Homo sapiens: one gene and its partner. The protein of the gene in region 2 interacts with the protein of the main gene of each other region in a biochemical or structural test. Each region holds a gene or a part of one and is shown on either strand. Other genes may lie near its edges.

Region 1 (3,500 bases), on a different chromosome or scaffold from region 2:
CCGGGACCGGCACACGGTGGGCCAGCGGACCCCCTCCAGCAAGCCCAGCATCAGCCTCTCAGCCCCCGACATCCTGCCTCTACACTGCACCATCCGCCGGCAACCGCTCCCGGACAGCGGCCAGGCCGCGGGGAGGCTGGTCCTGGAGCCCATCCCCGGGGCGCACATCTCCGTCAACTTCTCCGAGGTGGGGCACAGGACCGTGGTGCTGCACCACGGGGACCTGCTCTCCCTGGGGCTCTACTACCTGCTGCTATTCAAGGACCCCGCGCAGGCCCAGCCCCTGCCCGCCCGGGCCTTGGCGCGCCTCCGGGCTGTGCCGCAGAGCTGCCGGCTGTGCGGGGCCGCGCTCGGGGCCCGGGGAGCCGCCTCCCCTACTCAGGCCGCCCTGCCCCGGCGCCAGCAGCTGCTCCTGGAGTTTGAGCCCCACCTGGAGGACACGCTGCTGCAGAGGATCATGACGTTGATCGAGCCGGGGGGCGACGACCACAAGCTGACCCCCGCCTTCCTCCTGTGCCTCTGCATCCAGCACTCGGCCACCCACTTCCAGCCGGGCACATTCGGGCAGCTCCTGCTCAAGATAGCCAGGCTGATCCGCGAGACTGTCTGGGTCAGTGTGCTGGGGTGGGCGGTCTGGGTCCTGTGCCGGTCTGGGGGAAGAGGGGGCCCGGAGCTGGCCCCGGCTGGGAGGCGGGAGCGCCTCTATCTGACCCCCACGGTGCTGTGCTGCTGAGCGCAGGGCGGCCTTTCCCTGCCTGTCGCTGCCCCCCAGCCCCACAGGCCACCAGAAGCAGCCCCAGAACCCAAGGTGTCAGCTGCAGCCCTTTGCCCCTGAGGGTGGGGTTTGCGTGGGGTCCTAGGTCACCTCCTGAGCTCTGGGCTTGTACCCTCCCTGGGGTCCAGCTGGGCCCAGCACTGTCACGTGCCAGGAGTGAGCTGCCCCTGAGCCTGGGCACCACGAGGCCGAGGTGACATTGATAGCTCTCACAGGCCCCTGCCCAAGAGCCCCAGAAGCCCCTGTGTGTGCCGGCGCCCTGTGCTTGCTGCCAGGGGCCGGTTGAGCACATACCCGCTGGAGCCATCCCTGATCCGAGTTTGGAGGTGCAGGGCCCGTCACCTTTTGTGCGTTGACGAACTTTCCTCCAGGCCAGCCTCTCTCATCCCCGGCCCTGTGGACACTGTGGCAGGAGAGCTCCTTGCTGTGAGGCTGGCCTGTGCATTGCAGAGGATTCAGCAGCATCCCCGGCCTCCACCCCTAGATGCCGGTCACCCTCTGCCGCCCCGCCACACACACACACGCAATACACCCATGGCTGCAGGCATTGCCAATGTCCCCAGGAATCCAGTGTGGCCGCCAGTGAGCAGGACCGCCCTGGGCCCATGAGTGCTGGAACAGGCATCACACAGTCATGGCCCCCCGCTGGGCCCCACCCCACAGTGACTTGGCTCCCAGGGACCCGAAGGACAACTCGTAGTTGTTCAAGTTCGTTCAGAGACCCTCAGATCCTCGCTAGTCTGGGCCCCGCTTATCCCCGGCAGACAGGGGAAGGGGGAACCACTTGACTGTGTAGAAACCTTATCACTTTCTCATATCGAAATCCACATTTTAAATGTCTGAGACTTTTAAAAAGTAAAAGCCAGCTCAGGCTTCCCTGTCCAGATGTCAGTGGGAGCCGTCTCTGTGCACCGTGGGTGTTGTAATCTGGGTGTCCGTGCCTCTTCCCCTCGGGTTCCCGGCTTGGGATTTGATGGGAGTGCCACTGCAGCGTGCCCGTGTCCCCTCCGTGCAGTCATGGACACAGGGCCAGGTGATGTCCCTGTAGTGTGTGTCCACATCGTGGCCACTGTGACCGAGAGTTACCTGCTGGCCAGAAGTCATGGGTTTTCGCACGATCATTGTCATTTCCCGAGTCTCCTCTGCGCCAGGCACTTACTTGCAAACCAAACGCTGTTTAATTTCTTTATCACAACCACCCTGACGATGTAGATGCCACACCCCATGTCACAGCCAGGGAAACTGAAGCCAGGGGGCCGTAAGTCACTTGCTGAGGGACCCGGGTCCCAGCCTGTGTCCCAGCCACCTGGGGCTCGCTGTGTGGCTGGCCCACTCCCTGCAGCACACCAGGGCTCACCCTGCCCCTATGCTACAGGCTCTGAAACAGAGGCTCCCAGAGGTGAATTGCCTGGTCCAGAGATTGAGCTGATAGACATGAGACCGAGCCTGAGTCCACCTCTTCCCCCTGCACCCACTGTGGGAATCCGAAGCCTCCGCTGGGTGCTGTCCAGATCCCATGCGAATATCATTTGCGCGTTTGTTTCCTGAGAATGTGCAACTGTGTCGCCGCTGCCCCGTCCTCATTCCTTACCAAATATACACGCTTAGTCTACGCGCACTCAGCCATCACGGTTACATTCAGCCGGATAATAACTTACTACTAAGGCAAGAATAATTCTTTTTTTTTTTTTTTTTTTTTTGCTGAGACGGAGTCTCGCTCTGTCACCCAGGCTGTAGTGCGGTGGCGTGATCTCGTCTCACTGCAACCTCTGCCTCCCAGGTTCAAGGGATTCTCCTGCCTCAGCCTCCCAAATAGCTGGGATTATAGGCATGCGCCACCACACCCGGCTAATTTTTGTATTTTTAGTAGAGATGGGGTTTCACCATGTTGTCCAGGCTGGTCTCGAATTCCTGACCTTAAGTGATCTGCCTGCCTCAGCCTCCCAAAGTGCTGGGATTCCAGGTGTGAGCCACCTTGCCCAGCCTCTACTATTTTTTAAATAGCCGGTTGTTATGTAAGCTAGAGAGTTGTGAGATACTCTATTGTAGCAAACTTGTAGGTCATAGTCGGTAATGGAATGGGAAGATGTTGAAGTCACATGGAAAATGTCCTTTCCAGCACAGCTTGAATAAATAGTCAGCGTCACACAGGATGCCTGGGGCAGCATGGCTTGTTTTCCTGTCGATGGTATCGTGTATTTGAACGCGTCCCTGTGTTAGCCTGTTTTGCTCACTTGCTTTTTCTCCCGCTTTGTAATTGTAGGAGAAAACCAAAGAACTAGCAGAGAAGCAGGCGCAACTGTGAGTATGACCCGGTTATTGTGCCCGCCTCTGGGCAGCAGGTCCTGGGGGCTCACACTTCCCGGGGGAGCCAAGTCCCGAGGGGTCTCCCCACGCCTTGGGGTCAGCTCTGGGCTTTGTCCTTCCATCCAAGCAGCGGCCTTTTTTGCTTCTTTAGTCATCACCCTGGGAAGCTCTGAGTTTTGGGAAATTGCTTCAGGGCACCCTTAAGACTGGATGGGTGAGGTCTTCTTTTTTTGTTTGTTTTTGTTTTGTTTTGTTTTGTTTGCTCTATCGCCAGGCTGGAGTGCAGTGGTGCAATCTCTGCTCACAGCAACCTACACCTCCCAGGTTCAAGGGATTCTCTTGCCTCAGCTTCCCGAGTAGCTGGGACTGCAGGTGTGCACCACCATGCCTGGCTAATTTTTTTTTTTTTGTACTTTTA
Region 2 (3,599 bases):
GGTGGGACCCAGCTTGGGGTGTTCAAAGTGGGTGGCGACAGGGGTGGCAGGCCGCATTCTAGGCCCTGGGAAGGACAACAAGAAGCAAAAGAGAAAACGTCTCACGCCTGTAATCCCAGCACTTCAGGAGGCCGAGGCAGGTGGATCACCTGAGGTCAAGAGTTTGAGACCAGCCTGGCCAACATGGTGAAACCCCGTCTCTACTTAAAATACAAAAGTTAGCTGGATGTGGTGGCGGGCACCTATAATCCCAGCTGCTCAGGAAGCTGAGGCAGGAGAATCGCTTGAACCCAGGAGGCGGAGATGGCAGTGAGCTGAAATCGCACCATTGCATTCCAGCCTAGGTGACGAGAGGAAGATTCTGTCTAAAAAAGAAAAAAAGAAAGAAAAGAAAAAAAGAAAATGTGCTACCCTTAGGGAGTGGTGGTCTCAGGGTGGGGTTGATGGTTGAGTGCCCCTGGCTACGTTATTGTTATTGCTGCCGCCATTGTGCCCTTAGAAGGGGCAGTGCTGTGGATATAGCAGGGATGGGACATGGGTCTTCCTGGGGCACAAGGAGGCCTCTGGTGCCAAGGTGGCGAGGCAGTGGCAGGATGTCTTGCGGGAGGGTGTCCAGGGTGGGTTTGAGGGACAGCCTGGGGCCAGGGGCTGTGGCCGGAAGGGGAGTCCGCTGGAGGAGGCTGGGAGGTGAGGTCCGAGGGGTCAGGAGCTTCCCTGTGCAGGTCCTGCATGTCCTGGGGGGCCTCTGGCATTGAGCAGGGGAGGGATAGGCACCGACTCAGCTTCCACAGGCCCTCTGTGGCTGCCATGGAGACTGGGGGGCCATGGGCAGAGGCAGAGAGGCTGGCAAGTTGTGCCCCGAACTGGCTGGGCAGGCACTGTTAGATTCAGGCCTTGAGGGTGGGAGAAGGGGTCGGATCCTAAATAGACTCTTCAGAGCCCTCAGTGTGGGAGTGAGGTGTGGAGCTGAGGTTTTTGGCTGGAGCTGCTGGGGGCCCGAAGGGGGTGGCCATTCGCACTGGGAAGGCGGAGTGGGGAGCTGGCTTGGGCAAGACCAGAGCACGATCGTGGGTCAATCAGGGTGGAAGCGTCCTCCAGTCACGTCTGGGGGCCCTGGGATGGGGGTAGAGGAGCCCGGAGCCACCAGCCCAGCCAGACATGCTGTCGTCTCTGTTGCAGGAGCCGCCCTGCCTGGAGCTAGCCTGGGGGCGAGCCAGGGTCCCCCAACCCCCGGGATGACCGCGGCCAGCCGGGCCAACCCCTACAGCATCGTGTCATCGGAGGAGGACGGGCTGCACCTGGTCACCATGTCGGGCGCCAACGGCTTCGGCAACGGCAAGGTGCACACGCGGCGCAGGTGCCGCAACCGCTTCGTCAAGAAGAATGGCCAGTGCAACATTGAGTTCGCCAACATGGACGAGAAGTCACAGCGCTACCTGGCTGACATGTTCACCACCTGTGTGGACATCCGCTGGCGGTACATGCTGCTCATCTTCTCGCTGGCCTTCCTTGCCTCCTGGCTGCTGTTCGGCATCATCTTCTGGGTCATCGCGGTGGCACACGGTGACCTGGAGCCGGCTGAGGGCCGGGGCCGCACACCCTGTGTGATGCAGGTGCACGGCTTCATGGCGGCCTTCCTCTTCTCCATCGAGACGCAGACCACCATCGGCTACGGGCTGCGCTGTGTGACGGAGGAGTGCCCGGTGGCCGTCTTCATGGTGGTGGCCCAGTCCATCGTGGGCTGCATCATCGACTCCTTCATGATTGGTGCCATCATGGCCAAGATGGCAAGGCCCAAGAAGCGGGCACAGACGCTGCTGTTCAGCCACAACGCCGTGGTGGCCCTGCGTGACGGCAAGCTCTGCCTCATGTGGCGTGTGGGTAACCTGCGCAAGAGCCACATTGTGGAGGCCCATGTGCGCGCGCAGCTCATCAAGCCGCGGGTCACCGAGGAGGGCGAGTACATCCCGCTGGACCAGATCGACATCGATGTGGGCTTCGACAAGGGCCTGGACCGCATCTTTCTGGTGTCGCCCATCACCATCTTGCATGAGATTGACGAGGCCAGCCCGCTCTTCGGCATCAGCCGGCAGGACCTGGAGACGGACGACTTTGAGATCGTGGTCATCCTGGAAGGCATGGTGGAGGCCACAGCCATGACCACCCAGGCCCGCAGCTCCTACCTGGCCAATGAGATCCTGTGGGGTCACCGCTTTGAGCCCGTGCTCTTCGAGGAGAAGAACCAGTACAAGATTGACTACTCGCACTTCCACAAGACCTATGAGGTGCCCTCTACGCCCCGCTGCAGTGCGAAGGATCTGGTAGAGAACAAGTTCCTGCTGCCCAGCGCCAACTCCTTCTGCTACGAGAACGAGCTGGCCTTCCTGAGCCGTGACGAGGAGGATGAGGCGGACGGAGACCAGGACGGCCGAAGCCGGGACGGCCTCAGCCCCCAGGCCAGGCATGACTTTGACAGACTCCAGGCTGGCGGCGGGGTCCTGGAGCAGCGGCCCTACAGACGGGAGTCAGAGATCTGAGCCAACCTTGGCCGACATGCAGCATCCACCCCCGGCTGGGGAGAGGCCCCGCGGTCGCTCAGGGGCCCCGGGTTTGAGCAGAACGGGCCCAGTGCCCTGGGTTGCAGACTCAGTAGCGTTTTAGTCGTTTTATGTTTCTTTGCAACGGCCTCAGAAGTTTGGCCGGAGAGGGGGCAGCCAGAGCGGCAGCCCCCGGCCTCAGAGGCTATCACAGGCTCAGGGCAAAGAAGTGGCCTCCTGGGGGGCCAGGCCACGAGGGCCAGGGCTTCTGCCTGAAGATGGAGCTGCAGCCTGCGGGGAAGCAGCTCAGCTCGATGGTGGGCCCAGCCTCTGCTGTCCAAGGCTGGCTAGCTGCGGTGCTCCTTGCTGGTTTTTAACTTGGGGAGAAACACCGGGTTTCAGCTTTCTTGACCTTAGCTTGGGTGAGACTGTTTACAAAAAAAAAAAATTACCATGCAATTGAAAAAATTTTTTTTTAATTCACAGGGGGCAAAAAGAACAATTAGAATTCCATGGGTCTGCCAGGATGCAGCAGCTGGCTGAAGGCTCCAGAGGGTTCCCCGAGGTGGGACTGGCCTCTCCCCGTGTGTGTGGGCACCACAGTCCCTGGGCAAGCAGGGTGCTCTGGGACCGCACTTCATCGAGCTCACGAGCCAGCTAGGCTCTGTTTGTGATAGAAAAATCAAGACCATGTTAATGATCGTAATAAAAGCTTTCTACTGTCGTTGGGGTGGTGGGTGGGGCTGGGAAGAAACTGGTTTGAGCTTTTAGAGTTTGCCTTTGTACCTTAGAGATGTGTCTCAGGGCCAGGCATGGGACCTGCCATCGAGGGTTCCTCCCCGCACCCTCGATTTTCCTGTTTTGCTTCTCTCTCCATTTCTGTCCAGGCCTCCGCCCAATTCCACAGTGAGGGGTGGTTAGGAGCTATAGGCCGGGATGGCTCCTTGGGAAGGGAAGTCGGGATCCCAGGCTAGGAGGAAGCTGGCAGCCCCGTCCCCACTGGGCCCACAGTGTGAGTCGTGCCTTAGAGACTCCGGGTTGTCCTGTTCTTTCTGGGCTTGC

What was found. Proteins that work in one complex are often made in the same cells at the same time.
Region 1: the proteins of KCNJ12 (region 2) and RADIL interact in a test that uses a peptide from one of them, tested with the Homo sapiens proteins (one large-scale study listed by IntAct).

The regions. Positions count from the first base shown.
Region 1 is NC_000007.14:4,831,717-4,835,216, reverse strand, and holds part of RADIL (ras-associating and dilute domain-containing protein), read left to right. Parts: coding exon 1-610; intron 611-3,038; coding exon 3,039-3,076; intron 3,077-3,500. UniProt on the Homo sapiens protein: Downstream effector of Rap required for cell adhesion and migration of neural crest precursors during development.
Region 2 is NC_000017.11:21,414,108-21,417,706, forward strand, and holds part of KCNJ12 (ATP-sensitive inward rectifier potassium channel 12), read left to right. Parts: intron 1-1,179; 5' UTR 1,180-1,235; coding exon 1,236-2,537; 3' UTR 2,538-3,599. UniProt on the Homo sapiens protein: Inward rectifying potassium channel that probably participates in controlling the resting membrane potential in electrically excitable cells. Probably participates in establishing action potential waveform and excitability of neuronal and muscle tissues.